Homo sapiens: one gene and its partners. The protein of the gene in region 3 interacts with the protein of the main gene of each other region in a pairwise test. Each region holds a gene or a part of one and is shown on either strand. Other genes may lie near its edges.

Region 1 (8,125 bases), on a different chromosome or scaffold from region 3:
GGGATTACAGGTGTAAGCCGCCATGCCCAGCCTCTGTCCCTTCATTTAAACCCATGTCTTCTGACCAAATTGTCTCTAAGACTAAAAGAAATGTGAGAAACACGGAGTCTCCCATAAACAGGGAGTGAGGAAGGCTTGGGAACTGCACGTGTTCGTTTGTTGGGTCTAGAACATGGATCCACTCTCTTCCCACAATCTGCAGAGCAAGTTTCAGGCAGGGCTGATACTGCCTGCTGCGCAAGGGTGAGGAGGGTAAGCAAGGGATGCCCGGTGCTCCTGGATGTTGCTTCTGGCCATTTCCCACCTCTCCCAGCTCCGACTCCTGGTGATATCCTGCCTTACACCCAGCCACCCTGAACTCATAACCAGAGTCCACATGCCACTCCCCCTTTTACAGGACCGTTTCCTCGGCTTGCCTGGCAAACTCAGGTCCTGGGTCCTTCTCAGCCATCAGGCCTGTGCCCCTCTGCCAGGTCCCCCAGACACCTGCTCCTCCTCTAGCATTCTGTTTTGTTTTCTGAGACAGGGTCTCGCTCCGTCACCCAGGCTGGATCATGCAGTAGCATGGTCACGACTCACTGCAGCATCAAACTTCTGGGCTCAAGCAATCCTCCCGCCTCAGCCTCATGAGTAGCGGGGACTATAGGCACATGACACCATGCCCAACTAATTTTTTTATTTTTGTATTTTTTGTAGAGATGGGGTCTTACTACATTGGCCAGGCTGGTCTCGAACTCCTGGCCTCAAGCAATCCTCCTGCCTTGGCTTCCCAAAGTACTGGGATTGCAGGCATGAGCTACCCTCCTCTAGTATTTCTGTAGCTTGAGTGAACTTCTGCTGTTCTAGGTACCCACAGTTCACCATCTGCCTCCCCACCCATCTACGAGACCCTTGAAGGCAGGGACATGACTTTCCTCTGTTTTTCCCAGGCTCAGTTATAGAGCCAGCTGTGGGCAGCTGCTTGGGAGGCGCTGGTTAAACCGAATGGAGGAACCAGTGGAGCTGAGATGCCCGTGCCCGCAGCCACCAGACCCTGGCTGAGCTCTCTCCAAGGTTATTACCTGGAGGCCATGGAGTGGAACTTCTGGAAGGCAAGAGAGAGGGAGGTTAAGGCTAGAAGGTGGGAAGCTAGGGCACTGTTGGGAAGGGGAAGGCCCTGGCGGGTATGGGGATGGGACGCCTCCCTGTCCACTCACCCGGATGAACTTGTGGTGGTCCTCATTGCCGAACTGTTCCAGCACACACTCGGCTTGGGCCAGCCGCTCCCGGGTTCCCTGGGCCTGCTCCAGCTGCATGTCCAGGGAGGCCACCAGGCCACGGGTGTGACCCCCTATCCCCTCCAGGCAGCGGGCCTTCTCCTCATCCACCAGGTGGTGCAGCTCCTGGAACTCGCGGCGGATCACCCAGCTGAAGACATCCGACTCATTCTGGGACAGGGAGGGCTGGTCACTGCAGAGTCACAGCCGAGCTGCCAGGCTCTGTCTGGCTGGCCTCGGTGTCCCCAGGGCCTTCCTGACCGGGTTGGTCCTGGGACCTGAGTCTCAGGGGAGGCTGCATGGCCTGGCGCCGGGCAGGGAGTTCACCCCATGCATGGGGAGCCCTGGCGGTGGCCGTGGGGAGGGTGACCCCAGCTCCCGTTTCAAATGGAGAGGCTCTGTTTTGGCCTGTTTTAATTTTTTTTTTTAAGAGACAGGGTCTCACTCTGTTGCCCAGGCTGGAGCACAGTGGCATGATCATAGCTCACTGTAGCCTTGACCTCCCAGCCTCAAGCAATCCTCCCGCCTCAGCCTCCCGAGTTGCTGGGATTACAGATGCACGCCACCACACCCCACTTTGCCTATTTCAGCTATTAAATGTGCATATCCCAGAGTTCCACAACTGAAGGAAAGCAGGAAGGCCCTAGGCGAGCAGGCTTTGCTGTGAGGGAGCCAGAACTCCCTGCAGAACCCTGAGCTCCGCCTCCACCAGGCAGGGCTGGTACCGCCTGCCGCGCAAGGGTGAGGAGGGTAAATGAGGGAGGCTGAGTGCTCCTGGATCTTGCCCGGCTCCTGTTTCTGTTTCACAGCCACCTCCAGGGCCGGGGCACTATGGCTCCCAGCCCCATGTGCCTCTCACTTCGGGAGATCAGCCAGGGCCCAGGGCTGCCAGCCTCTCCACGCCTGAGCACCCAGGTACTGGGAGGGCACCATGACAGGCTGGCAAGGTCAAGCAGACACAGGTGGCACAGGGGCGGAGGAGTCATGCCCATGCTTTGAGCTGTTTACCCCCTGAGACTCAAGTCCTGGGTTATCTCAGTCTCAAGGACACAGAGGGCAAAAGCCAACTTGGAGCCAGTCCTAACGACAACTGGGTTGAATTCCCCTGAGAGGATTTGCGCTTTCCCCACCCCGCCCTGGGAATGCTTTGAGTTCTGGCTTTATATGGAAGGCATGGTTTTCTGTAAAGGACCAATGAGAACTGAGTTCTACAGGAAAGTGAAGGTGGCCGGTCCCAGGCAGGGGCAGAGGGAAGGGGCACTCACGACGATTCGGGTCCGGTTGTTCACCAGTTTGGCGATGAGCTCATCCACCTTTTTCTGCTCCTGCTTCAGCTCAGAGATGAGGGCTGCGAGCTCCTCCTGGAGGCAACAGGCCATGGCCCCATGAGCAGCTGATCCCTCCCCTTCTCAGCTCCTTGGATCACCTTCTTGGGAGTATCCCAATGGCCACAAGCACTCCCAGGGAAACCAGGGCGGGAACCAGAGCCACCCAGGTACCCTTGAGTCCAAAACAGGTTAAATTGTTCGAGAATAGTCTGGGCGCAGAAGCTCACGCCTGTAATTCCAGCACTTTGGGAGACTGAGGTGGGACTTCACTTGAGGTCAGGAGTTCGAGACTAGCCTGGCCAACATAGTGAAACCCCATTTCTATTAAAAATACAAAAATTAGCCAGGCGTGGTGGCATACACCTGTAGTCCCAGCTACTTGGGAGGCTAAGGCACGAGAATCGCTTGAATCTGGGAGGTGGAGGTTGCAGTGAGCCAAGATCATGCCACTGCACTCCAGCCTGGGTGACACAGTGAGACTCTGTCTCAAAAAAATAAAAATAAAAAATAAGATAAATTAATTCAAGAATATTCTAGGCTGGGCGCAGTGGCTCACGCCTGTACTCCCAGCATTTTGGGAGGCCGAGGCGAGTGGATCACCTGAGGTCAGGAATTCGAGACCAGCCTCAACATGGAGAAACCCTGTCTCTACTAAAAATACAAAATTAGCCAGGCGTGGTGGTGCATGCCTGTAATCCCAGCTACTCGGGAGGCTGAGGCAGGAGAATTGCTTGAACCTGGGAGGCAGAGGTTGTAGTGAGCCAAGATCGCGCCATTGCACTCCAGCCTGGGCAACAAGAGTGAAACTCCGTCTCAAAAAAAAAAAAAAGGAATATTCTAGGCTGGGCACAATGGCTCGTGCCTGTAATCCCAGCATTTTAGGAGGCCAAGGTGGGAGAATCACTTGAGGATAGGAGTTTGAGACCAGCCTGGGCAACACAGTGAGATCCCATCTCTAATTTTTTTTTAAAGAATATTCTGCATTGACAGCAGGAACTTCCCAGGCATAAGAGGGTCTCAATGTCACCCCTCTGCATGACATGGAGAGAGTCACTAAACGTTACAGCTACCAGAAGTCACCATGTGATGCTGGCACTTCCTGGATTGAATGCTGCCTGTAGGGGACCCATCAGGTGAACTCTGTGGTCACCAGCAGATCCAGAATTAGTGGGTATTTAATCAGGAGCCATCACAAAAAGGCCGGCGCCAGGTGAGGCTAATTCTAGGGCCAGTGGTGCTCACACGGGCCTGGGTTAAACCTGGTGAATCCCCACACCCATAAACACCTGAATCCATTCCTGGTGGGCTTGGACACAGCACGGATTTGCGACCTCCCCAAGCTGACATAAATGCACTTCTCCTGGACTGCCCGGGCCCCAAACCTGACCTAGCCTTGGGGGTGCCAACCGGGACCCCTGGACCACCATCTACTGCACGATTTGACCAGAGCCCCCGTCGGTTTGTACCCATGCAATATACAGAATTTTTGGCTTGGATCGTGCCCAAGCACCAGAGAGCTGCAAGGGGCTTTCAGGAAGGGAGTTGCGTAAAGAATCAAGCACTTGCTGGCATAAACGGACAGAGTCCTTGCTCTGGAGAACGAGGCATCAGAATATTTCACAGCGGCCCAAGAACGACATTCCAATGTCACTCTCCCCAGGCAGACAGACGGGACTCATTCCTTCCCCGTGAGAGGAACTAAGTTATGCAAATCAATGCACCCATCAATCGAGCATCTCAAAATCTCAATAAACAGGAGGCAACGGGAACACCTAAAAGAGGGCAATAAAGGAGTGCAATTTAGTTGTATTCTGTGTTGCAACAGAGAAGAGCCTCGGGATCATCAAACCCCAAATCTGGCCGGGTACAGTGGCTCACACCTGGAATCCCAACTCTTTGGGAGGCTGACGCGGGTGGATCACGAGGTCAGGAGATCGAGACCATCCTGGCTAACACGGTGAAACCCCGCCTCTACTAAAAATACAAAAAATTAGCCGGGCATGGTGGTGGGCGCCTGTAGTCCCAGCTACTTGGGAGGCTGAGGCAGGAGAATGGCGTGAACCCGGGAGGCGGAGCTTGCAGTGAGCCGAGATCGCACCACTGCGCTCCAGCCTGGGCGACAGAGCGAGACTCTGTCTCAACAACAACAACAACAAAATTAAGCCCAAATCTAAAACAGGGACCCAAGCTGGGCTGCTGGATCCTAACCACAAAGGACAGATAAGCTCCCAGCCTGTTTCCCTCCCTCCTTCCCATTAACTAATAAAACATAAACTCGGCTTCCTCACCTGCAGTCAGCTTCCACCTTCCATACTCCCCTAAACCTGCTCTTGCCAAGATAATCAGTTCTTACTGCTACATCTAACACTTTTCAGTCCTCAGAGACATTTCACACACGTGATCTCCTTCAGTCTCTGTCTCTCTGATTTCCGGGAGGCCACACTCAGCTGGTGTTCCCGCTCTGAGGATTCTTTCTATCCCTTTTTTCAGGGCTCTCTCTCAATCCAGATTTTAAGCCTGGTACCCCTTGGGGTCATCATCAGTGTCTTCCCTTATCACTATGTAGACTCTCCTGGGTTGGTCTTCTCCACCAAAGGGGACTTCAGTGACCACCAGGAGGAAGGACCCTCCACACCTCTCGCCCTGAGCCCCACCGCTGTCCTGGTCTGCACACCCCTCGACCCGACTGCACATATCCAGGCACCTCCGGCTCCACCTGCCCACGCCGGATCCTCCCCTGCGATCATTTCCTCTGTGCAAGGGGGAATCACAGAGCTGGAGTCAACCTTCCCGTCCCTCACCCTCCTTGCCACACACAGTTGTCAGGGTTTTTTTCTGTTTGAAATTTGTCTTTGGTCTGCCCCAGGCCTTTGTCCCAGTTCCCATCGACTTAGGTCCTGGCACCTTCATCTCTCACTGTCCTTTTGCCTCACCCTCAAAGCTCCCCTCTGCCAGAGAGATCTGAGCATTTCATCACTGGCTTAAAACCCTCCAGCCTCCGCCTTGCTCCCTCATCCTGTGAATAAACTCCAAATCCCTTCCCGGGTCACACTGGCCTCTCCATGCCCCAGCCGCAGCTTACCTCGCTGGCCCTATCTCACCCCCACCGATGTTCCCTCCAGCCTTATGCTGGGATTACAGGAGTGGCCACTGTGCCTGGCCAACAAGGCTAATTTTGAAACTTTTGTAGAGGCAGGGTCTCACTATGTTGCCCAGGCTGGTCTCAAACTCCTGGACTCAAGTGATCCACCCACCTCGGCCTCCCAAAGTGCTGTTATTATAGGCATAAGCCACCCAGTCACGTGTTTTATAACAGGTGTTTTATATATATAACAGCCAGCCAGGTATTATTATTACTCGTCTTAAAGAATGATCTGCTAGGTTTGGTGATGGCCTATAAAGGCAGGAATTCACTGATTCAGCATTTTGGACATTTACAATGTGCCAGGCATGGCTCCAGGCACTGAAATACACCAGGGGACAAAATGAAGTCCCCACCCTCATGCACCATAGAGTGCAAACAGGGGAGTGTCCAGACACAAACAAGGGGCCTAGGGCAGTGGTGCATGCCTATAATTCCAGCACTTTGGGAGGCCCAGGCAGGAGGATCATTGGAGGCCAAGGAGTTCAACACCAGCCTGGGCAACATAACAAGACCCCATTTCTACAAAATATGAAAAATGAGCTGGGCATGGTGGTGTGCACCTGTAGCCCCAGCTGCTCGGGAGGCTGAGGTGGGAGGATTGCTTCAGCCTAGGAGTTGGAGGCTGCAGTGAGCCATGATCACACCACTGCACTCCAGCCTGGGCAACAGAGTGAGACGCTGTCTCCAAAAAGAAAGAAAAAAAAGAAAGGAGAGAGGGAGAGGGAGAGGAAGAGGGAAGAGGGAAGAGGGAAGGAGAAGGAAGAAAAGAAAAAGGAACAAACCAGAACTGCAAATAAAAAAACAGGAAGGGGTGAGCACGTGACACCAGGGAGCTCCCATCCTGTTCGTGTGGCTTCAATCCCCGGCACCTGGGTTGAGCTGCAGCTCAAACGCTAAGGAATGAATGCGCCAGGGCACAGCTGCAGGGAAATCGAGGATAGCTGGATCCTTTTGGTGCCAGGTGATGGCACCAGAGAGCACAGGATCTGGTCCCCGCGGGCCTCTCCAGCCGCCCCTGCACCCTCACTCCCCACCTTCATGCGGCTGTAGACGGTGGAGACGGGCGTGACCGGGTGGTGTTGGTGGGAGCCCAGCAGACCGCAGAGGCCACAGATGAGCTCCTGGTCCTTCTCGCAGAAAAGGCTGAGCGGGTTCCGGTGGTGCACGCAGACCTTGGGCTCCGGGTCCCCAGGGAGCCTCAGGGCTTCGATCACCCTGGCCAGGGAGACGTTGGGCAGGGAGCTGCTGCCGTCCACCGCCTGCCGGCACACGGGGCAGCGCAGCTCGGCATCCAGGTGGCAGGACAGGGAAACCAGGCAGCCCTTGCAGTAAGAGTGGCCACACTGCAGCATCAGGGGCTCCTTGAAGACCTCCAGGCAGATGGGACACTGAAGCCGGTCCTCCAGCTCTGGCAGGCTCACCTGCCAAGCCATCCACACTCACTGCCCGGGCTGAAACACAGGCATCCGACCTCAGTCCTGTCCCCTCCCCTCCCCCTGTCCAGCACTCATCCACCACCCTCAACCCTAAGGAGCACCAGAATTTTAGAGGAAACACTTTGAGTCCTGGATCCCAGTCCTAACCCACATGACCTTGGGCCCCAGTTTCCGCAGCTGTAAAACAAAAGACTGCAGTGAAAAAAACTGGTCCCTTGAAGATATGTGTGTGTGTGTGTGTGTGTGTGTGTGTGTGTGTGTGTCTACATTTTTTACTCAAATTTGGAGACAAGCATGAAAGGGGCCATCTGCAGGGTCATTTGCAGTGACACTAATAATGCAAGGTCCAGCCCCAGCATGCATCCGGACCTAGAACTGAACAGCAAAACCTAGGCAAGCTCCCCACCTTCTAGATCAGTTCCCAAACTTTCGGGAAACTGTTGAAAGCATAGGTGTAATAGAGATTCTAGAGGCCCACCTTCAAAGGATCTTCTTCAGGGGGTCTCCAGTGAGACCCAGAACTCTACACTTATAGGTGACACTCCCAGGTAATTCTAGAGAGCCTGGAACCTACAAGGCCTCTACCCTGATCTCCCACCTGCTCCCCTATGAAAGCTTGTCAATGAGACAGAAGCAGCACCAGCAGCCCCCGGGGGAGCCCGACATTGGAATACCTGGCTTCTCACAATCCGCTGGGCCTCCCACTACAGCCTCAAGCCAGCATCACTGGCTTTCCTTCTTCCCAGCAGGGAACAGCAGGCACAGAGTCAGAAGTGGGAAATGCAGCTGGACGCCTGCACCACTGCCTGGTCTCTGCCCCTTCTCTCCTCCCCTTTCCCAGCAACACCCCTGTGTCCCCAAGGTCACCAGAATCAGGTGGAAACTGGGTTACATCACGGGACTGGGGAGGCAGCCTTTGTTGGGCCTGCTCTGATAACATTCAGGTGCTGGCCTTGGCCA
Region 2 (8,125 bases), on a different chromosome or scaffold from region 3:
CCGGCGCCGATTTGGGTGATGCTGCGGTCTCTGCGCAGATCCTCCCCGACTCTAGCGCGGGCTCTCGAGCAGGGTCGGGTCGGCGCAGGCCTGTGCCCGGGAAAGAAGGCTCGGTGGGCGGGTGCTGCGAAGGCACGAGGCAGCTCGAGCCCCGCTCACTCCGTCCCCCGCCACGTGGGTTTCTCCTCTACTCAGCCTGCCTTGCCTGCCCTCCCAGCACCCCAGAGGAACAGCGGGTGAGGAGGAAAGTGTACTTTTCCGCCCTAGGGGGCGCGCCTTTGTGGCTCCGGGGTTGGGTTGCACCGAGGAGTGGGGGCTCCACGCTACCCGCAGGGAGGGCAATCACTGGGGGAGGGGACGCGAGCACACCAGCCAGGCCCCACCCCAAGCCCCTCAGGCCGCTCTCACCTTAAGGCCCATCGGGCGGCTCTCACCTTAAGGCCCATCCGGCCGCTCTTCCTCCGGCCCCGCGCTGCCCTCCTCTCCGTCTGGGGCCACCTCCTCTTCCTCCCCGGAAGCGCCTGAGCCCAAGGAAGGCCTGGTGAGGTGGAGTCCCTGCCTTTACGGCCATCGTGCCCGCCGCACCCCCCACACAGAGGGTCCGAACCCGTCTCAGCGGCCCTCGGCCACCTCCTTCACCTGGCTGGAAGTCGATGGTCCGCAGCATTTCGGCCACGTGCTCCACCCTTACGGTGAATTGCTCCATGCTCTCATAGCCTGGCTCCGGCCGCCCTGCCAGCTCCACCTTCGACATGGCCCCGACCCTGCAGTGGCCACACGGACTCAGCTGGCAATGCCCCAGCACTCTCAAGCCCCACCCCAGCCAGTGGAGCAGTGCAGCCCCCTCCTTTCCCTTCCCGCTATGCCTACTCACTTATTGATCAGCTCCTTGGCCTGCTGCAGGGAAGAAAAGGAGGGTGAGAGTAAGCACTGGGCCAACCTGGGCAAAGTCCCATTTCTGAATCTCACCACAGTCCTGCGGGGTAGGTGGGAAGGCACGTCCCAATTCGTTAAGCAGAAAACGAACTCAGAGGGGGTGACTTGCCCAAGGTCGTAGGGGCAAGCAGGTGCAAGAGACAAGACTTGAACCCGGGACTCCAGGTACCAAGGCCCTGACTCCAGCCACTGTGCAGCGCTGCCACCCTCCCCTAGAGCCCACCTGGAGATACAGCGCCATTTGTGGCTCTTCCATGGACTGGATGGCAGACTCCACCAGCTTAGAGGAGGCCTCCAGGTGGTCGCCATACTGACGGATGAGGCCGCGGACGCGCTGCAGCTTCTCCTCTTGCTCCCGGGCCAGCGCCTGCAGCAGCTCACCCTTGCGCTCCTCCAGCACTGCGCACAGGCTCTCAAACCTCTGGTTTAACAACTGCTTCTGCCTCCGGCTATTGTCCTAAAAGATGGGGAGCAAGGATGAGGGAAGGCGTGGCTGAGACCCGGTGGCTGGGAAAGCACAGGGTACTCACAGAGAACCAACACAGAAAGTGACCCATCCGTAGTGACACTGTGAGTTAGTGGCTGAGCCAGAACCCAGCCCAGATCTTTTCCATAATAAAAACACAATGCTTTAAAGTAGCTTCACTGATTGCTGTCTATATCCCTAGCCCTGGTTTTTATTTGCATTATTCCATTTAATTCTCAAAAAGAACCCATGAGGTAGCTGGTGTATCATTATCATCATCACTGTTTTATGAGGTTAAACAAAACCAAAGCACAGAGAAGTTAAATAACTGGATTAAAGTTTTGCGGCAAAGCTGGAATGCACACCCAGCAGCCTGGCAAAAGCACCTCCCACCACTCCCAGGACCCCAGAAACTTTCAGACCAGTTTGGCGAGAGGTCAGAGAGGAGCAGTTCTCTTGGGAGCCCGGGGTCCGCAGGCTAGCCAGTTGCTGTTCCTCCCTCCCTCCAGCCCAGGCTCACCTCGATAGTCTGGCACACCTCCTCCATCTGTGTGATCACTGCTTGCACGCGGTCATTGCCTGCCACCAGCATCGCGATGCCATCGCTGAGCTCACTCTGATACACACACAGGTCAGCACTCAGAGCTGGGACCTGGCCTAGAGCTACACCCCTCACCCCAGCCAGGGTTGCCTAGGAGAGGGCTGGCCCTTCCACCTCACCCCCCATAAGGGCATCTACAGCAATCTAGAAGGCTTGAACCATCAAGAGGTACGGAAGCACATTCTAGTGATTCTGGAAGGAGGTGGAGAGAAGCCCTCCACCACTAAGTGGGGAAGGAACAGACAGTCTCCAAACATCCACCAGATACCAGACACTGGGCTAGATACTTTATCTGTAGATTCATTTCTTGCATCGATTCTGAGAAAGTCTTCAAGATTATCCATTGGCATAATATTGCCTCTTCTCTATTCTCTTTATCCTCTCATTCTGGGAATCTGATTAGACCTGTTAGACCTTCTCACTCTCAGCCTTCTCATCATCTCCCAGAACTGCACGTTCTGTTTTTCTTTCAGTCCTCTCATACTGGTCACTAGTTCTGTTTTCAGACAAATCTATCATTCAATTCATTCGTTGATTTTTTTTTAAATTTTTTTTGAGACGGAGTCTTGCTCTGTCACCCAGGCTGGTCTCGAACACCAGGCCTTGTCCTCCTGCCTCAGCCTCCCTAGTCACTGGGTTTACAGGTTCCAGCCACCATGCCCAGCCATCTGTTGAATGTTTTATATCTATCTATCTATATATATATATATATCTGTATATCTATATCTATCTATCTATCTATCTATCTATATATATATATTTGAGACAAGGTCTCACTCTGTCACCAAGGCTGGAGTGCAGTGGCTCGATCTCAGTTCACTGCAGCCTCGACCTTCCAGGCTCAGGTGATCCTCCCACCTCAGCCTCCCAGGTAGCTGGGACTACAGGCGCATGACACCACGTCCGGCTAATTTTTTATATTTTTTTGTAGACGGGGTTTCAACATTTCCCCAGGTTGGTCTCCAACTCCTGGACTCAAGTGATCCTCCCACCTCAGCCTCCCAAAGTGTCGGGATTACCGGCGTGAGCCACCACACCCAGCTACATGGTTGGTTTTTGATATTCTATTATTGTTTGGTTTTTAAAATTTTTCATCTTTTTTTAAAAAGCATTTGATTTATAGTGACTTCCAATTATTTAATAATTCCAATATCTCAGTTGCTTTTGTGGGGGGTCCTAAATCTGTATTTTTTGTTTCTGCTGACTTCACTCATGGATTACGTTTCTCTGTGCACCTTCAATTGTGATCTAATATTTTATTGATATTAATTAATCTAGGGAATACCTACGGGCCTAAATTGTGCATATTTTCCTCTAGGCAGTATTTGCATTTGCCTCTGTTGAAAGCCAGGTGGCGCAATTTACTGCTTTAGCTCCTAGGATCCTAGTTTAACCTACGGTCTCCGGAAACTTTTTTTTTTTTTTAGACGGAGTCTCTCCCTGTTGCCCAGGCTGGAGTGCAATGACGTGATCTCAGCTCACTGCAACCTCCGCCTCCTGGGTTCAAGCGATTCTCCTGCCTCAGCTTCCCGAGTAGCTGGGATTACAGGGCCTGCAACCACGCCCGGCTAATTTTTTGTATCTTTAGTAGAGACGGGATTTCACCATGTTGGCCAGGTCTCAAACTCCTGACCTAGTGATCCGCCCGCCTCGGCCTCCCAAAGTGTTGAGATTACAGGCGTGAGCCACTGCGCCCAGCCGGGTCTCTGGAATCTTAGCTGCAGGTACCCCTCCTTTTAGGGGTTTGGAGGAATAGTCTGGTCTCTCTAGCTCAGTGACATTGCCAGCACTGGTCCTCTGCGAAATGCTGCCTTTTCTGTGCTTGCCACTCAGGGTTCTGCTTTCAGCTCCGCCTTTTCTCTTCGCCCCTCCCCACCCCCACTGATTTCCTTTGCTTCTATGTACCAAGCAATATAATTTGAAAATTCTGTTTTACACAGAATCTAGTTGTGTGATAGAGAGGACCCTGCAAGTATCTCACCCACCATACTGAAGTCTCTGCTTTCATCCATTATCGAATTTTATCCTTATAGCTACTTTCACAAGTAGGCATTTTCACCCTAATTTTACACATGAGGAAAGTGAGGGCCACAAAGGTCCAGTAACATACCTAGGTGACACACCAAGTCAAGCACAGAGCTAGGACTTTGACTCCAATCTGCTTGACTTTTATTTTATTTTCGAGACAGAGTTTCACTCTTTTTGCCCAGGCTGGAGTGCAATGGCGCAATCTCAGCTCACTGTAACCTCCGCCTCTGGAGTTCAAGTGATTCTCCTGCCTCAGCCTCCCGAGTAGCTGGGATTACAGGCGACTGCCACCATGCCCAGCTAATTTTGTATTTTTAGTAGAGAAAGGGTTTCACCATGTTGGCCAGGCTGGTTTGGAACTCCTGACCTTAAGTGATCCGTTCACCTTGGCCTCCCAAAGTGCTGGGATTACAGGCATGAGCCACCACGCCTGGCTTAATCTGCTTGATTTTATTTTTATTTACTTATTTTATTTTAGGTATTATTATTATTATTATTTTTAGACGGAGTCTCGCTCTGTCGCCCAGGCTGGAGTGCAGCGGCCCGATCTTGGCTCACTGCAAGCTCTGCCTCCCAGGTAAACAATTCTGCCTCAGCCTCCCGAGTAGCTGGGACTACAGGCGCCTGCCACCACGCCCGGCTAAGTTTTTTGTATTTTTAGTAGAAATGGGGTTTCACCGTGTTAGCCAGGATGGTCCCGATCTCCTGACCTCGTGATCCACCCACTTTGGCCTCCCAAAGTACTGGGATTACAGGCGTGAGCCACCGCGCCTGGCCTATTTATTTATTTTTGGATGGAGTTTTGCTCTTGTTGCCCAGGCTGGAATGCAATAGCGCAATCTCAGCTCACTGCAACCTCCGCCTCCCGGGTTCAAGCGATTCTCCTGTCTCAGCCTCCCAAGTAGCTGGGATTACAGGCACATGCCACCACACCTGGCTAATTTTTGTATTTTTAGTAGAGACAGGGTTTCATTATATTGGTCAGGCTGGTCTCGAACTCCTGATCGCAGGTGATCCGCCCGCCTCGGCCTCTTAAAGTGCTATGATTGCAGGTGTGAGCCACCGCCCGGCCTGCTTGACTTTAAAACTAAGTGGAGTAACGCTTTGGGAGGCTGAGGTGTCAGGGGCGTTTGAACCAGAGCAACTCCATCTTGAATAGGGGCTGGGTAAAATGAGGCTGAGACCTACTGGGCTGCATTCCCAGATGGTTAAGGCATTCTAAGTCATAGGATGAGATAGGAGGTCGGCACAAGATACAGGTCATACAGACCTTGCTGATAAAACAGGTTGCAGTAAGGAAGCCGGCCAAAACCCACCAAAACCAAGACGCCAATGAGAGCGACCTCTGGTGGTCCTCACTGCTACACTCCCATTAGCTCCATGACAGTTTACTAATGCCATGGCAATGTCAGCAAGTGACCGTATATGTTCTAAAAAGGGAAGGCATGAATAATCTACCTCTTGTTTAGCATATCATCAAGAAATAACCACAAAAATGGGCAACCAGGCTGGACCCGGTAGCTCACACCTATAATCCCAGCACTTTGGGAGGCCAAGGAGAGTGGATCACCTGAGTTCAGGAGTTTGAGACCAGCCTGGCCAACATGGTGAAACCCTGTCTCTATTAAAAATACAAAAATTAGCCAGTCATGGTGGCGGATGCCTGTAATCCCAGATACTTGGGAGGCTGTGGCAGGAGAATCGCTTGAATCTGGGAGGCGGAGGTTGTAGTGAGCTGAGATCGCGCCATTGCATTCCAGCCTGGGCGACAAGAGCGAAACTCCATCTAAAAAAAAAAAAAAAAAAAAAAGAGGGCAACCAGCAGCCCTAGGGGCTGCTCTGTCTATGGAGTGGCCATTGTCTTATTCCTTTACTTTCCTAATAAACTTGCTTTCACTTTACTCTATGGACTAGCCCTGAATTCTTTCTTGCGCGAGATCCAATAACCCTGTCTTGGGGTCTGTGTCAAGACCTCTTTCCTCTAACAGAGGCAGGAGGATGGCTTGAGCCCAGGAATTCAAAACAAGCCTGGGCAACACAGTGAGATCTTGTCTCTTTTTAATATTGTATGTTTGTTTTTGAGACAAGGTCTCACTCTATCACCCAGGCTGGAGTGCCGTGGTGCAATCATGGCTCACTGCAGCCTCAACCTCCCGGGCTCAAGTGATCCTCCCACCTCAGCCTCCCGAGTAGCTGGGACTACAGGCATGCCACCATGCCCAGCTAATTTTTTGTAGAGACAAGGGTCTCACTATGTTACACAGCTCAGGCTGGTCTCAAATTCCTGGACTCAAACAATCCCCCTGCCTCGCTCTTCTAAAGTATTATTAGTACTACTACTACTAATAAATATTATTATTAGTACTACTACTACTAATAAATATTATTATTAGTAGTATCCTCCCAAAGGATTACAAGTGTGAGTCACTGTGCCCTGCCTGAGACCCTGTCTCTATGTAAAAATAAAAAATTAGGTTCGGGCGCAGGGGCTCACGCCTGTAATCCCAGCATTTGGGAGGCCAAGGTGGGTGGATCACCTGAGGTCAGGAGTTCCAGACCAGCCTGGCCAACATGGTGAAGCCCCGTCTCTACTAAAAATACAAAAAATTAGCTGGACATGGTGGTAGGCGCCTATAATCCCAGCTACTCTGGAGGCTGAGGCAGGAGAATTGCTTGAACCTGCGAGGCAGAGGTTACAGTGAGCCGAGATCGTGCCATTGCACTCCAGCCTGGGCAACAAGAGCAAAACTCCATCTCAAAATAAATAAATAAACAAATAAATAAATAAATAAAATAAAATAATTAGCTGGTCATGGTGGCACATGCCTGTAGTTCCAGCTACTTGGGAGATTGAGGTGGTAGGGATCACTTGAGCCCAGGAGTTCAAGGCTGCTGCAGTGAATCACAATCATACCAGTGCATTCCAGCCTGCGCGACAGAGATCCCCACATCTCTTAAAAAATAAATAAATGGAGCTGGGCGCAGTGGCTCACACCTGTAATTCCAGCACTCTGGGAGGCCAAGGTGGACGGATCACATGAGGCCAGGAGTCAAAAAAAAACCAAAAAACAAAAAAGCTGGGTGTGGTGGCACATGCCTGTAATCCCAGGTACTTGGAAGGCTGAGGCATAAGAACAGCTTGAACCCGGGAGGCTGAGGTTGCTGTGAGCCAAGACTGCACCACTGCACTCCAGCCTGGGCGACAGAGCGAGACTCCATCTCAAAATATGATAGATAGATAGATAGATAGATAGATAGATAGATAGATAGGGCTGAGTGCGGTGGCTCACATCTATAATCTTAGTGTTCTGCGAGGCTAAGATGGGAGGATCACTTGAGCTCGGGAGATCAAGGCTGCAGTAAGTTGTGTTTGTGCCACTGCACTCCAGCCTGGGCAACAGAGTGAGATCCTGTTTCTAAATAAATAAAGAAATAAGTAAACAAAAGATAAGTGGAGTAAGAGGCTGACACTGAGACCCTGTCCTAAGCCCCCATCTCTCACATATCTACTCCCTCCCCTGTTTGATACCTTCTGGCGTTTGTAAATGGTGGGCAGTGGGGCCACCTCACAGTCCTTGTGGGCACCGAAGACCTTGCAGAGAGAGCAGGTGGGCACCTCACAGCTCAGGCAGTAAATATTGATCTTCTCTTCTTCATGCTCCTCGCACATGAGGTGCTGCTCAGCCTTGGAGTGCAGCGGCCTAGAGAGGAGTGGGCAGGGGGAGGTGGACCTTAAGCATGAAGGGTCCTAGGAATACCTTCTCTTCAGCCTCCACCAACTGCCACCACCTTCTCCGCCCCTGCAGCTAGTGCTGTGGCTGAACTGGTGAGTACTTCCACAGAGCTCTGAATTTGGGGAACAGAAGGAGCTAAGAGATAGAGGAGGCCTGGATCCGAGAACAGTCTGTATTACAAGGGGGCAGGGAAGTCCCACAGGACAGGAAGTCTTGGAGGGTTAGCGAGGATCTTGCTGGTGGACTGCCAGCCTCTCCCAGGAGGAGAGGGTAGGAGTGAAGTACTGGCTAGGGAATCAGAGACTGCCCTCTCTGGGAGGCCTGAGGCAAGTCCCTCTCCGGATCCAGTCCTATGGTCTC
Region 3 (8,125 bases):
TCTGGGTTTTTCTCCCCAAACTCTAGATTTGTATATTACTATTTACTGCATCTTCACTTGAATGCTTGATAGACATCTTAAATGTAACACATCTGAAATGGAATCCTCTCTGCCACAGCTTGGCCCATCTCAGTTGATGGCAACTCTATCTTTCCAGTTGTTCAGGCCAAAATCTCAGGTTCACTCTCGACTTCTCTTTCCCTCCGCATTGCTACCCTGGTATGAACCATCATCTTCTCTAGCCCAGATGCTGCAGCAGTCTCCTAAACGGTCTTCCTACTTCTCACCTTGCCCCCTACAGTCTATTCTCATCACAGAGGTCAACGTGATCCCTTAAAAATACAAGTCAGATTGTTTGGCTCCTCTGTTCAGATCTCTGTACTGATTCTTGCCCCATTTTATGCAAACTCAAAACTACAGTGGCTTTAGAGATCTATGTCATCTTTGCCTCCCTTCTTATCTCATCACCTCTTTGATCTCATGTACTACTCCTGTTCAGCTCACTGGCCTCCTGATTGTTTCTTGAGCATACCATGCCTTAGGGCCTTTTCACTGGCTACTGCCTCTGGCTGGAAGCTACCTCCTCACCTTCCCCACCCTACTCCAGGAGCTAACTCTCTCACTTCTCTCAAGTCTTTGCCCAGATGGCACCTTCTCAAGGAGATGTACCACAACAACCTATTTAAAATTGCAACTCCCTCTCCATCACATATTTACCAACCCCTTACCTTCTTCTATTATTTTTTCCATAGCATTTGCCAACTTCTAACATATTATCTAATTTACTTACTTATTATGGCCCTTGTTAATTGTCTCCCACGACCTCAGAAAAACTATAAGCCCCACTGGTCCCCTTCATGCTAACTACTCCCCAGACACAAATACTCTACTTTTGCTTTTAGCTGTTTCTTCTGGTAATCACCTTCATATGTCTAAAGCACCTTCTTATATTTTTTCCAGTTTTAGATATTACTTATTGACTCATAAGGATTTAGGAATATAGATTTCACTTTTTTATACCACCCATCCCACACACACACCTCCAAAGTTCTTCATTTCATCCTTCCAATGTATTGATTTCACTCATTCTGGTTAAATAAATATTCAGTATTACATTAGTATAACCATGTAAACATTATAAATGGTTTTCCACATGAATTGTGATTATGTGTTCTTTCTCCTACAACTTTTTGTTTTACCTGGACTTAATAATTGCTTCGGTTTTTCATTTGCTTCACTTTCTAGGTACCTATCACTAAATCATCCCTAAAATTCTCTACCAGATCTGAAAATTCCCCTGAGTACAACTACACACATCAGATAGTCTGTCCATTTCATTTTGGGAGCATGTTATGCCCCAGGCTTGATGATTAGCTGTTGGTCTGGAATTTCTTCCACTCTCTCCACGGTTGGAGTTCTGATTCCCAAATCTCAGGTCTCATCTTTCTCTTTCTTAGGTTACTCCTTGTTTGATAGAACATATCCCCAAATAGTTTCTTGAGAAAGAAAGCATGAGAGGCAAATTTTTTAGGCCTTATATGTCTGAAAATGAAAGCTTGGGTGGCTATAGAATCTATTGACCATCTTAATCTGTTTATTAAAAATCTTATTACAATTCTGATTTGGCCACTACACACTGTATACATGTATTAGAAAATCATTCTGTATTCTATAAGTATGTATCATTATTACTTGTCCACTAAAAATAAAAGAAATAAAATTGATTACAAAAACTTTCAAATAAATATGACAGTAGAAAGTTAATACAATAAACATTCATGTATTTACTCCCCAGATACAACAGTTGTTGTTCTAAACAAGGTGAATAAAAATAAATCTACTCTTAGATACATTACAGGTAAAAGGCAAAGGTTGATTTCTTTGAAATCAGCCGAAGAAGATTACAAGCAAAGGAATGGCAGTTAGGCTGAAAGCAAATATATCGACAGCAATAATAGAAGTGGGTATGCAGTGGAATAATCTTCAAAGTGCTAAGAGAAAATAGCTGTTAACACGTGGAAATCAAAAGTTTTCCAGGCTTGAACTATACTTTGTTTGTTTTCTTTTTTCTAAAGTATGTTAAAGCAAATCCAAGATATCCTGTTATTTCACCATCATTCTTTAATATCTCAAAAATACAGTCATTTTCTTAATCACAATGCCTTTATCACTCTCAATGATGTTAACAATAATTTTCCCCCATCGTTTTGGGGCCTTGCATTTACCACTCTTGTTCATTACTACTGCTGCTGCTGCTGCTGCTGCTGCTGCTTGCTTCTCCCTTGTATTCTATTGGATTGAGCAAGATTTCTTTATTCTCTTTCTTCTTTCCTACTGATTCGTCAATTTTACATTTATTTCTATCATTTCAATAGTTACCCTTAACATTTTAATATAAATACTTGACTTAATAAAGTCTAAAGTTAGTCATTATCTCTACTTTCCTTACAAATAGTATATAGATTTGAGAACATGTTAACACTGTAACTATCTTACATGAAAATGCTGCCAGAATTTTGTTTCATTTTGCTTTCATACTACCCCTCTTTACTGATTATTGTTGTTATTTATGTAACTCATGCCTGTTTAGATATACTCACATGTTTTTGTTTTTGCTTTTTTTCTTTCTTTCTTTCTTTTTTTTTTTGAGACAAAAGTCTCACTCTGTTGCCTGGGCTTGAGTGCAGTGGCACGATCTTGGCTCACTGCAGCCTTCGCCTCCTGGGTTCAAGCAGTTCTCCTGCCTCAGCCTCTCAAGTAGCTGGTACTACAGGTGTGTGCCACCACGTCTGGCTAATTTTTGTATTTTTAGTAGAGATGGGCTTTTCCATGTTGGCCAAGCTGGTCTTGAACTCCTGACCTCACATAATCTGCCCACCTCGGCCTCCCAAAGTGCTAGGATTACAGGCATGAGCTACTGTGCCCGGCTGGATATACTCACAAGTTTACCCTTCTCTTTACTCACATTCTTCCTTGGATCCTAAGCTTTCCTTCTGGGTATGATTTCTCTCTTCCTGAAATACATCTCAGTAGCTTCTTCACCAAGAACCTTGAGTAGTAAATCTTTAGTTGCCTGAAAATAAGCTTTTTGTTTTTTGCATCCATGAATGATAGTTTAGCTGGATATCAAAATCTAGATTAACAGCTATTTTCTCTTATCATTTTGAAGATTATTCCACTGCCATCCCACTTCTGTTATTGCTGTTGATGTATTTTCTTCCAGCCTAATTGCCATTCCTTTGTACGTAATCTTTATATTTGGTTGATTTCAAGATCCTCTTTGCCTTTTACCTGTAACGTGTTTAAGAGTAGTTTTATTTTTATTCATTCTGTTCAGAACAATGTACTCAAATGTGTTTGCTTTTCTCCTGCTCAGGATTTCTCTTTCCTTAATATAAAGATTTATGTCACTAATCAGGCCTGAAAATTCTCATCTATTATCTCTTTGAATTCCCAACATTCCCCAACTCTCCCACATTCTCTCAACTCTCCTTCTGGAACATAACACATGTATATTAAGCATTCTCATTCTAGCTTCATGACTCTCTTTTTTTTCATGACTCTCCTTTTTTTTCATTTCTCTCTTTTAATCGCCTTATGTCTCTTAACCTTTCATATTTTCTCTATTTCTATCTCTTATATTCTGGGTAATTTCCTGAAATTATCTCCAAGTTCATTCATTCTTTCTTGGCCAAATCTAATTTTCTGTTTTTAGCCCATCCATTTAGGTTCAATACCTGCATTTTTCATGTCTAGAAGTTCAATTTATCTTTCTTTCAAATTTGCCTATTTTTGTTCTCACTACAAAAAAAAGATAGGTATGTGAAGTGATTGATATGTTAATTAACTTGATTTAATCATCCCACAATGTATATATATATTAAAATATCACATTGTACCCCATAAATATATAAAGTTATTATTTGTTAATTACAAATTAGAAAATTTCAAATTTACCTGTTCTGTTTTTCATGAGATGTTATTCTTTTCCCAGATTTAATCATTTTTAATTAATTTATTTTACAGTCTCTATCCTATAGTTGCATTACCTGAACTTCTTGGAGGCTAATCTGACTACTTTTGTGTCTGTGACTCTTACTCAAGGTGGATTGCTTCCTTGTGTGTTTGTAATTTTGGATTGTGAGTTTCTATCTGGTGGGACTCTACCTATGAGGATCCTCTATGACCTATTTTGAGGCTGTTGTCCCTCCAGAGGAATTTTGTGATTGCTTCTGCCAGACATCTCAATGTTTATGTTAATTCTTCTGCTCAGGGATTCCCAGACCATGAGGCCAAAGTAAATCCTAATCCCACACACAGGAATGGCATGGACCTGTGATTTTGAGTTTTCAGGGGCATAAGTTTTCATCTCCACACTCAAATACCGACCCAAGAAAGAAAAGCTTCCTTGCCACTTTCCTTTTCTCATTAGCTGATACTTTTCCTCTTACCCACCATAATTTATCCTTTAAAGTTTCCAGCTTTATGCAGGATCAATAGAGTCTTACTTCCAAATCCCCACCTGTGTGGATGGGACTTTCCTGTCATCCAAGCCCCTAGTTACAAAGTTGACCCTACATCTCCCATAAGCAGTGTCAACTCCTGTGCTTAACCAGTCCATTTGTGCTGCTATAACAGGATGCCACAGACAGAGTAATAATAAAGAACACAAATTTATTTCGAACAGTTCTGAAGACTGGGAAGTTCAAGATCAAGGCACCACCATTTGGTGTCTGGTGAGGGCCTTCTTGCTGCCTCCTAGCATGGTAGAAAGCAAAAGAGTAGAAGGCTGTAGCCAAATACTTCATGAATCCTCTTTTATAAGGACCCTAATCTCATTAAAAAGGGAGGACCTTTCATGATCTAATCACCCCCGAAGGCCCCACCTCTTAATACCATCACATTGGCAGCACCTGAATTTTGGAGGAGACACATTCAAACCATAGCAACCAGTCAGACCTTCATTCCTGGAATGCAAAATTTTCTTTCTTTCCTGCAAAGCCAGCTATTAAATTGAATGTCTGTCACATTTTATACACCATATAAAAGTGTTTACAGTGGGAATTTCTTGTGTTATCTAGTCTACTGTATTTTCTGACCATTAAAGCTGAAGTCATTTTAAAATTTGATATATTATTCACAATTGCAGGGTAAATGTTGTCCAGACTCAGAGTTTAAGAAACACTTTCCTGTTGGAAATCCAGAAATTCTTCCTTCATCTCTTCCAAGTCAAGCTGCTGAAAATCAAACTTCCACGATGGAGAAAGATGTTCGTCCAAAGACAAGAAGTATAAACAGATTTCCTCTTCATTCTGAAAGTTCATCAAAGAAAGCACCAAGAAGCAAAAACAAAACCTTGGATCCACTTTTGATGTCAGAGCCCAAGCCCAGGACCAGCTCCCCTAGAGGAGATAAAGCAGCCTATGACATTCTGAGGAGATGTTCTCAGTGTGGCATCCTGCTTCCCCTGCCGATCCTAAATCAACATCAGGTACTCAGCCTCTGTTCTCTGCTTACCTTTCTGGGAACCATCCGCACAGTGTCTTAAAAAAATCCAAGACCTGAAAGATGTTCACAAATGTTGTGGCTGAAAAGGCCGTTTTCTCTGACTCCCACTTCTCTGGGTGCCCAAATGCACTATCTCGTAGCACTTACCACCTGGTTTATTTGCATCACCTCCGAGAGACTGAGTCACCTTTGACTCAAGCCAGGTCTTTGAAGGTAGAGCCAGGTCCCTCTTCTCTGTGTCTCCAGCTTCTAGGCCAGGGATTGATTTGGAGCAACTGCTTCAAAACTGTTGAGTAAATGAATGAATCAGAGGATACCCAGTCTATCTCTCTCATGGTGTAGATATGGCACTGAGGCCCAGAGATGAGATGTCTTGGTCAAGATCCTAAGCCAGTTGGTGGTGGCTTACCTCCAGCAGATCAAGGTTTGCTTCAAGAAGATCAGGGTTTGTAGGCATCTCCCTGAATATCATGATTTTTATGTCCTAGGTTATTTTCTAGTAATAATAATAACTGGCATTAGAGGTTGTTAACCATTGTGTGCCAGTTACAATACAGAGCTCTTTATAATCTTCATCATAAACAATAGGCATGCATTTTATCTCCATTTTACAGATAAGGTGAAGTAGCTTTCCAAGGAGTATACAATTAGAAGGTGGCAGGATCCAGCCTGAGTCCACATGTATATAGCTCCAAAGTTTATGCTCTTAAGCTCCAGATTAAATGCCTTACTTAAAAAATTTATTTTTTTTCAAAATACATAAGTACTAGATTTTGTTGGAGCTAGTTGATATAATATCATATAAAGAAGTATAAAAGCAAAGCTAACCCTAATTCCCCAACCCCATACCCTGAGATACCACTTTGGACAGTCTTATGGGCATCTTTTCAAAGCTCTACCTTTGCATATACAAGCCTAAACAAGCATATACTGGGTTTTACTTGTTTCTTTTTCCACACATATTATCTTACTATACTTTTTACTCTGCCACATGCCTTTTTCACTTAGTATATGATGCATGCTTCTTACAAAAGACTTAGTATGCCAAAACCTTTTTTTCTAACTTCCTTGTGCATCTATGTATGCACATAAGCATATAATTTTACAAAAATGGGTTCATTTCATATTTGCTGGGGGTGTTACTAGTGCCATTTTTCCTTGCCTCCCACAATTTGGTATATTTCCTTTCACAGTTTTCTCCATCCTTATATAACAGAGTCGCCAGATTTAGCAAATAAAAATACAGGACATTCAGTCAAATTTGAATTTCAGAGAAACAAAGAATTGTTTTTAGTGTAGGTATATTCCATGCAATGATTGTTTTGCTAAAATTAAAATTTAACCAGGACACCCTGTATTTTATTTAGCAATTTCTTATATAACCACCATACAAACATACACATTTGGAGTCCTGTTATATACATTTTTTCACTTTTTTTTTTTTGAACCAGTAAAGCTGCCATCTTTTTTTTTTTTTTTTTTTTTTTGAGACAGAGTCTCGCTCTGTCACCCAGGCTGGAATGCAGTGGTGGGATCTCGGCTCACTGCGATCTCTGCCTCCCGGGTTCAAGCGATTCTCCTGCCTCAGCCTCCTGAGTAGCTGGGAGTACAGGCACCCGCCACCACACCCAGCTAATTTTTGCATTTTAGTACAGATGGGGTTTCACCATGTTGTCCATGCTGGTCTTGAAATCCTGACCTCAGGTGATCCACCCGCTTCAGACTCCCAAAGTGCTGGAATTATAGGGCATGAGCCACCACGCCCAGCAACATTTCTTTACATCCTAATGTAAATTCAGCAATACCCAAGGAAATCCCTACAAACAAAACAGTGTGGCTTATTTTTATTAATGGCTGCCTAAGATTCCATGGTGTGAGTGTTCTCCCATCTGTCCCTCCACCCAGTGATAGCAACAGGCCCCTGTTAAACTTTGTCGCAAGCCTCCTATACTTCTGGCTCAGTGGGCTCCTGACCTTTTCTATGCCATTACACTCCAGTCTTTGGGCAGGGCTCATGCTCTGTAACAAGGGACAGCAATATCCAGAGATATTCTAGGAGCTAGCACTTCTTACTTTAACCATATCAAACTTTTTTTATATCCATTTCTTAGGAGAAATGCCGGTGGTTAGCTTCATCAAAAGGAAAACAAGTGAGAAATTTCAGCTAGATTTGGAAAAGGAAAGGTACTACAAATTCAAAAGATTTCACTTTTAACACTGGCATTCCTGCCTACTTGCTGTGGTGGTCTTGTGAAAGGTGATGGGTTTTATTCGTTGGGCTTTAAAAGAAAAGGTTTGGCAGAACTAAAAACAAAACTCACGTATCATCTCAATAGATACAGAAAAGGCTTTTGATAAAATTCAACTTGACTTCATGTTAAAAACCCTCAACAAACCAGGCGTCGAAGGAACATACCTCAAAATAATAAGAGCCATCTATGACAAAACCACAGCCAACATCATACTGAATGAGCAAAAGCTGGAGCATTACTCTTGAGAAGTAGAACAAGGCACTTCAGTCCTATTCAACATAGTACTGGAAGTCCTCGCCACAGCAATCAGGCAAGAGAAAGAAATAAAAGGCAACCAAAAAGAAAGGAAGTCGAAGTATCTCTGT
Region 4 (7,000 bases), on a different chromosome or scaffold from region 3:
TGTTTTGAAGAATAAGTGGATTAATGTGCTGTAAAGAGCTCAGCTTGTGCCCAGAAAGGAACAGGGGCTCAGGCAGTGCTGTGGCCACGACAGTTTGTGACACCATGAGGCAGGGCAGAGGCTGGATCAGATAAGCCCCAAGGGCCTGTCTTGTCCCTCCAGTCTGAAGATCCAGTCTGATCAGGTCAGCAGGACCCACCTCCCCAGGATTTCCCAGTGAGACAGTGTGCAGGGCACACACAGGCGGCTGGGGCAGATGGGCAGGTGTTCTGGCCATCTGGAAGCAAGGTGGCCCTGGGCCATTAGGTAAGGACAGGCCTCAACGAGGACTACACAAGGAGCAGATCAACCCCCGGCTGGTCAGGACAGCGGCCTTGCGTGCCCCTCCCCTCCATGCAGACGGCTGCTGCCCACCTTGGCCAGGTCCCCTGGGCTCATTTGGCTCAGCAGGTCCAGTGAGAGGCGGTGGTGCGCAAAGATGGGCAGGTAGTGCTCAGCCGACAGCTCCTCCAGGAGGGCCACCAGCTGGCGCTCCATCCCCTCTTCCTGCAAGACAGAAACGTGTACCATGAGCAGGAAGGAAGAAAAGAACCCACTGTTTACAACAGGAAATGAAGGGTTTGAATATTTATAACATAATACATAGAATGTACTCGGGATTTTTCCTACAAAAACTCATAGGTAGGCACACAGAGATAGATAGATAGATAGGCCCAGGGGTTCACTGCCGCTCTGTCTGCAAACCTGAAAATAGTAAGCAACTTGAACATCCACCAAGAGGGGGCTGTTTCAACTGCCTCTCTGTCCCCGCAGGTGCTGGACAGACAGTGGCTCCCGGCACAGGCTTTGCTCTACTGTGGGCTCAGTGGTCTCTGCCCTGCACAGCAGTGACCAGTGCCTTGTCGTCCCCCTCACCAGAATGAACACTCCCTTACTCTCGCTTCTGTCTCCACTGGGGCTTGGCACAGGATCTGGCATGCTAGAGTCACCAGAAAAGTAACAAGAGGCAGAGCATGGTGGAGGCACCACAGGCGCCTCTGGGAGGAGGTCCCCAGGGCTCCCTGGCCGGGACAGGCACCAGCAGTCCTTACTTGCAGCTTCAAGGACAAGGGCTTCTGGTTCAAAAGCCGTTGATACTGAATCAGCCAGTAATTTTCCTGCCTGGTTTCACTTTTGGCTTCTAACTCCGTCTGCCAGGAATGAAGCAGGCAATGTTAGTCACAAAATGGTAATAAAACCTGTAATAACAATGATGGTTGCCAGGCGCGGTGGCTCATGCCTGTAATCCCAGCACTTTGGGGGGCCAAGGTGGGCAGATCACCTGAGGTCGGGAGTTCAAGACCAGCCTGACCAACATGGAGAAACCCCCCACCTCTACTAAAAATACAAAACTAGCCAGGCATGGCGGCACATGCCTGTAATCCCAGCTACTCGAGAGGCTGAGGCAGGAGAATCTCTTGAGCCCGGGAGGCAGAGGTTGCAGTGAGCTGAGATCGCGCCACTGCACTCCAGCCTGGGCAACAAGAGCGAAACTCCGTCTCAAAAAAACAAAACAAAACAAAACCAAAATGATGGTTATGAACCATGCTCCTCTGAGCGGGTGGACAGCACTTGGTACTTTTATTTTATTTTTGAGATGGACTCTTGCTCTGTCACCCAGGCTGGAGTGCCCGAGTAGCTGGGACTACAGGTGTGTGCCACCATGCCCGGCTAATTTTTATATTTTTAGTACAGATGGGGTTTTCACCACGTTGGCCAGGCTGGTCTCAAACTCCTGACCTCAAGTGATCTGCCCACCTCGGCCTCCCAAAGTGCTGGGATTACAGGCGTGAGCCACTGCACCCAGCCTGAATGTGATTCTTTTATTCTGCCATTCGATAACTCTTCGTTGAGTACTGTTCTAGGTGCTGGGAATACAGCAGTGAACAAACAATGCTGATAACAGCCACGGTGACAACAGGCGTAGCTGACATGTTCACAGTGCCATGTGCCAGACCATGCTGTGCACCTAACGATGCCATCATTAATTCTCACAACTCCGGGAAGGAGATTCTACCTCCCAGGTGAGGGAGCTGAGGTTCAGGGTGATGAGTAACCTGCCCAGGGTGGGGCCAGGAATTGGACCCAGGCCTGTCTTGCTCCAGAGCCCGTGCTCAGAACAACGGAGCTGTTCAGTGAGGGCTGGCATGACATGGGGAGTGGGATCAACACAGGCGTTTCTCAATCCCTGCTGGGCCTGACTGCCCTTTGCGGGCCCCTCCTGGACCTGGCCACGCCCACTGCTCCCTTCCGTCGTTGGCCCTCCCGGGCTGCAGCCCCTCTCTTCCAGCGCCCAGGAGCCGGATGGGCTGTGTTCTGCTGGGGCGGTGCTTCCTCCTTTGGTGGTGACCCCCAAGGCCTACAAGGGCAGGGGCACCAGCCATAGTACCTGGCTGCTAAGGCACAGCGCCAAGGCACCATCTGCAAAGTAACCTGATGCGTAGGAGATGGCAGTAGGGCACCGTGAGGAACAGGCAGCTTCCTCTGATGGGCACAGGCACCACTTGGCTTGTTCAGGGCTCCAGAAGCAGCTGGTCTCTCTCTTCTAAACCTGCACAGGACCCGGCCTAGGACGCAGCTCAGAGGGCATCTGGTGCATTCACGGGGACACAGGAACGACTCGGTCTTTTCCACCCCAGATGGTGAGCCTGGCCTCTGTCCTCATTGCTTGGGTGCCCTCTGGGTCTAGAGGAGACACTCTCAAGGGGGCCTCTGCCACGCTGAAAATGTGCCAGTGTCAAACCCATCAGGGGACAGGGACAGCTGGGCCACTCCTGCCAAAAGCTTATCAAACGGCCTGCCCTGGACATAGTGAGTCCTGTCTGGAGTGAATACTCATGGCTGTTCCCGAATACTCGACTACAAAGGCATTCGGAGAGCATTGCCTAGAAAAGTTTAAAAACCAGAAGTAATCCACATACTCAACAATAGGGGCCACGGACAGCCTTGAGAAAGGACGTCAAGGAATAGTTTAATGACTTGAAAAGAATGTGCGGAAACAGGCTGCTCGAAAAGGGTATGCAGCATGCCACGTTTAAAAGGCGCATACACGAACAGCTATAAAGGTGCATCACAATGTTTGGAAAATATGCATCAAAACCGCAGGAGAGGCTAGGCGCGGTGGCTCATGCCTGTAAAACCAGCACTTTCGGAGGCCAAGGCAGACAGATCGTTTGAGCCCGGGAGTTGGAGACCAGCCTGGGCAACATAGCGAAACCCCATCTCTACAAAAAATAAAAAAATTTGCCAGGCATGGTGGCACATGCCTGTAGTCCCAGCTACTCGGGAAGCTGAGGTGGGAGGATCGCTTGAGCCCAGGAAGTCAAGGCTGCAGTGAGCTGAGATTGCGCCACTGCACTCCAGCCTGGGCGACAGAGTGAGACCCTGTCTCAAACAAACAAATAAAAAATGGCAGGAGATAACGCTTGGAAATGCAATTATTTTCCTTTGTACTTTCCAGTTTTTCTTTGATGAATAACTCTTACTTGAATAACAGGTGTTTCTAAAAATGGCAAGTCTGTTAAAGAAAAGCAAATGCCTGTGTGATGCTGAGCACAGAAGCCAAACACATACCAGGATTTCCCGGAGCTCTTCCTCTCGCTGCTGCTTCTCTTTGAGCAGCTGCTGGAGCAGGGAGCTGAGGGCCCAGCGCTGCTCCGAGATCATCTCCTGCGAACAAGACCACACCCCGCACCACCGTGAGCTGGCGGCAGCGCAGGAGTCCCGCAGTGGCAGGATGGAGAAGGGCCTGGCCTCCCGCTCACTCGGTTCTCTGCCCAATGCCTCCAGGCTGCGTTGGGGGACAAAGCTAAGAGGCCCTTCTGCCCCCTTACCCTAAGCCCGCATCTCTCTTCCTTGTGGGGTTAAGTCAGGCATGGGATCCTGGTGACTGATGACAATGGGATGGTAAGAAACATCAAACAAAAGAAATGACAAGCCACAGGTGCCTGCCTTTGGTCTCCCAGACAACAGAGCACATGGGCAGAAGCAAATGGCGGGGAGCAGTGTGGGGCCCCACACAAATGGAGGTGCGTGCAAACCAGAGCCTGGGGTCCCTGCTTCACTCCTGCGCCTGCTCTTGGAAACCCCATGGGGGCCCCAACAGCCAGAGCCCTGCCACACTTGTGGGCAGGGACTAGGGCACCCGCCAGGCATGATGACCGCAGCTTCTCTGAGAGCAGTCCCAGTCCCCTCATCTCTGGAGATCATTTCAAGGCTCACAAAGGGCTTTCCCTTGCTAGCTCAGCCTTCTCCGATGGCCTGATGGCACAGGCTGGGCCTGGAGGACCGCTGCCATCTTATGGAGTAGGGGAAGAAGGCCTGGAGGGGCAGAGGCCTGTCTAAGGGCACACAGCACACCTGCGGTGCACCTGAGACCAGGGATCCAGATCCCAGACCCTTCACTGCACTGAGGAGTCCATGGGATGGCTTGAGACTTCTCCACTGAGAACAGACACAGGGACAGTGACAGACCGAAGGCTCTGCTCAAACTCCTGGCACAGGCACATGTCCTCACACACCATCCCATCCAGCCCTCCGTCTGCAGCTGGAGAGGCTGAGGTTCAGAGAGGGGAAAGGGCTGCCTCTCCTCCCCCACCTGCCAAAGTTGCACAGCAGGGCTGTGCTGGGCCACACCCGGCTCCCAGGCATCCAGTCCAGGACGCCAGCTGCCAGTCCCTGCTGCCCTCTCATCTGTGTGCGCAGGACTCCCGGGCTGGAGCCCCAGAGATGCTGCCTGCAGGGAGTTACACAGATGCGGCTGGGCCCTCTCCTCCAGACAACCCGGGACACCCAAAAGCTCCAGCCCTGGAGGATGTGTGCCTGGGGGCCTAAAGCACGGCCTACAGAGAGAGACAGGAGCTCAGCGGCGGGCCCGCACCCAGCACAGGAGACACAGTGATGGAGATGAGCAGGGGAGCCTTGGCAATGAAACCCTCCTTCCTCTGACCCTCCTGCCTCGCAACAGGCTGACCACCTCTAACCTTGGCCTGCGCTGGGCCTTCTGGGGCTGGGGGGTGTCCTCTGGTGTCACAGCCACAGAGGAGCTCTGCCCTCTGTCTGCTGGGGAAGCCCTTGACTCCCAGGGGCTGGTGAGCAGCTGCCAGAGGCTGGGAGGGAGCACCAGGTGGGGGTCTCACCACGTGAAGGAGGGCAGGGGCAGGGAGCCCTACATACCTGGAGTGACTCTGTGTCCAGGGACTTCCTCTTTAACTCCAGCTGTGTCAGCTGCAATAACTCAGTTTCTATTAACTTAATCTAAACAGAAGACGAGACAGGGTTTTTTTTTACTCACATTAACCACAGTTCAGTTTTGTGCTGCTACTCTCTGGTGACCAAGTGGGTCTAAGAAGCCTTTCTGGGGAGGCTGGGGAGGCTCTGGAATGAGGGGAACCTGCGGGCCTGGGAACCTCGTCAAGGGGCTTGAACAAGAATTCGTTCCTTCATGGCCTCGCGTTCCTGGGGCATGGACGTGCTTGTTGTGGCCAAAATTGTTTACCAAGAGGCCAGCACAGGATCTCTCCTAGAGTGGGATCAGGATAAAGGCTTGTGCAATGGAGAGGGGGCTTTCCTTGGGGATTCAGGCCAGAGTAAAGCACAGACAGAGCTATCACCCAGTCTCCTGCTGGTCAAGTTCTCTTGTCCCTCGCATCGCTGTTGCAGGGGAGAGCAGAGGGTAGTGGAAGTGACTGAGTAACAGTGGTAGTAGTAGCTGGTATGTCTTGAGCACCTACTATGTGCTAGGCCTGTGCTGCACACTTGATGTATCATATTTCATCAATTCTCTGGCTGCTAGGAGGTATTATTGCCTCCATTTTATAGACAAGAAAACTGAGGCTCAGAGAGGTTCTCACTTGCTCAAGGACACAGAGCAGGTAAGGGAGAGATCCCTTTCTCTGGGATGCCTCAGCTCAGGGTTTAAGGGCAATAGCTGACCTGGTCAAAACCATCTGCAGTGAGAATGTGGGGGGCCCTCACAGGCTCTCCAGGGTGTGTCTAGGGGATTTTAGCCCTGGGCAGGGGTGGGGGTCAGACCCCATAGCCAGTACTTCTCTATCCTGTGCCCATGACCCTGTGACCCTCATCCCTAAGTCCCTATGACACCACCAACCCCTGGTCAGAGGAATGAGCTTCATGTCCGGCAATGTGGAATTGAAATTAAAGAGGGAAATTAAAAAGGTAAATTGGTCCAAAAAAAGAAAGAAAGAAAGAAAGAAAGAAAGAAAAATAGAGAAAGAAAAAAACCATGCAAAAATGCAAAATTCAGTGTGCTGAACATGATGCAGGAGTACTCCCATAGCCTGACGCTCACTTCAGCCCCAGCCCCAGCCCCACTCCACAGGCGGTGACCACCAAGCCGTGTAGGTGGGCTTGCCCAAGGCTTGAAGGTCAGCAGCCGGCCTGCGGGGGGTGGGGGGTATCTTGTCACATGAGGGAGGGTCTAAGAGGAGGACCGCCTCCTCCTGGGCCGAGGTCACTTTTCAGCAGGCGTCAGGACCACCGTGGCTCACAGCTCCCCCTGCCCTCTTCTGGGGGAAATACTATATGCCCCTGAGACGCCTCTGTCTGTCTGAGCTGTAGGAGCGCTGGGGCCTGCGCCGGCTGCTTTTCCCAGTGGGGAAGTCCTGCCTGGAGCAGGGACAGCAGAGGCAGCTGGAGCAGTCAAAGCCACACATCAGCACCAGCCTCCCTGGCCCAGGCGTGGTGGAGACCCGCCTCGCTGGCAAGACCCTCGCCAGACCCCGGAATAGGAGGTCTCTAGACACCCTCCCAGCAGCCCCGACACAAGGCTGGGAGCAAAGGGAGGTTCTGAGGGCAAGGCCTCGACCTCTTGTTGGGCTAGCAAGCCAAGGAGCTGGGGTTCAAACCTCAACTGCTGCGACCTGCCGCCCTGGAGGGCCACTCTGCAAGTCTCTGAGAGAGCAGGTCCAGGGACCCCAGCCCCAGCGCTCACCTGGCTCCT

The links.
Region 1: the proteins of XAF1 (region 3) and TRIM50 interact in binary tests that used the Homo sapiens proteins (3 or more experiments, as listed by UniProt).
Region 2: the proteins of XAF1 (region 3) and TRIM54 interact in binary tests that used the Homo sapiens proteins (3 or more experiments, as listed by UniProt).
Region 4: the proteins of XAF1 (region 3) and LRSAM1 interact in binary tests that used the Homo sapiens proteins (3 or more experiments, as listed by UniProt).

Annotation. Positions count from the first base shown.
Region 1 is NC_000007.14:73,317,626-73,325,750, forward strand, and holds part of TRIM50 (E3 ubiquitin-protein ligase TRIM50), read right to left. Parts: intron 7,951-8,125; exon of another isoform or gene 7,840-7,950; intron 7,181-7,839; 5' UTR 7,163-7,180; coding exon 6,764-7,162; intron 2,618-6,763; coding exon 2,522-2,617; intron 1,450-2,521; exon of another isoform or gene 1,428-1,449; coding exon 1,197-1,427; intron 1,085-1,196; coding exon 1,062-1,084; intron 1-1,061. UniProt on the Homo sapiens protein: E3 ubiquitin-protein ligase that ubiquitinates Beclin-1/BECN1 in a 'Lys-63'-dependent manner enhancing its binding to ULK1. In turn, promotes starvation-induced autophagy activation.
Region 2 is NC_000002.12:27,298,852-27,306,976, reverse strand, and holds part of TRIM54 (tripartite motif-containing protein 54), read right to left. Parts: intron 7,733-8,125; coding exon 7,561-7,732; intron 7,448-7,560; coding exon of another isoform or gene 7,322-7,447; intron 2,019-7,321; coding exon 1,923-2,018; intron 1,394-1,922; coding exon 1,160-1,393; intron 898-1,159; coding exon 875-897; intron 765-874; coding exon 640-764; intron 522-639; coding exon 436-521; 3' UTR 435-435; exon of another isoform or gene 409-434; intron 91-408; 3' UTR 1-90. UniProt on the Homo sapiens protein: May bind and stabilize microtubules during myotubes formation.
Region 3 is NC_000017.11:6,765,494-6,773,618, forward strand, and holds part of XAF1 (XIAP-associated factor 1), read left to right. Parts: intron 1-1,858; exon of another isoform or gene 1,859-1,960; intron 1,961-5,149; coding exon 5,150-5,491; coding exon of another isoform or gene 5,492-5,548; exon of another isoform or gene 5,549-6,856; intron 6,857-7,619; coding exon 7,620-7,676; 3' UTR 7,677-8,125. UniProt on the Homo sapiens protein: Seems to function as a negative regulator of members of the IAP (inhibitor of apoptosis protein) family. Inhibits anti-caspase activity of BIRC4. Induces cleavage and inactivation of BIRC4 independent of caspase activation.
Region 4 is NC_000009.12:127,489,510-127,496,509, reverse strand, and holds part of LRSAM1 (E3 ubiquitin-protein ligase LRSAM1), read right to left. Parts: coding exon 6,992-7,000; intron 5,296-6,991; coding exon 5,215-5,295; intron 3,709-5,214; coding exon 3,613-3,708; intron 1,191-3,612; coding exon 1,092-1,190; intron 547-1,091; coding exon 415-546; intron 1-414.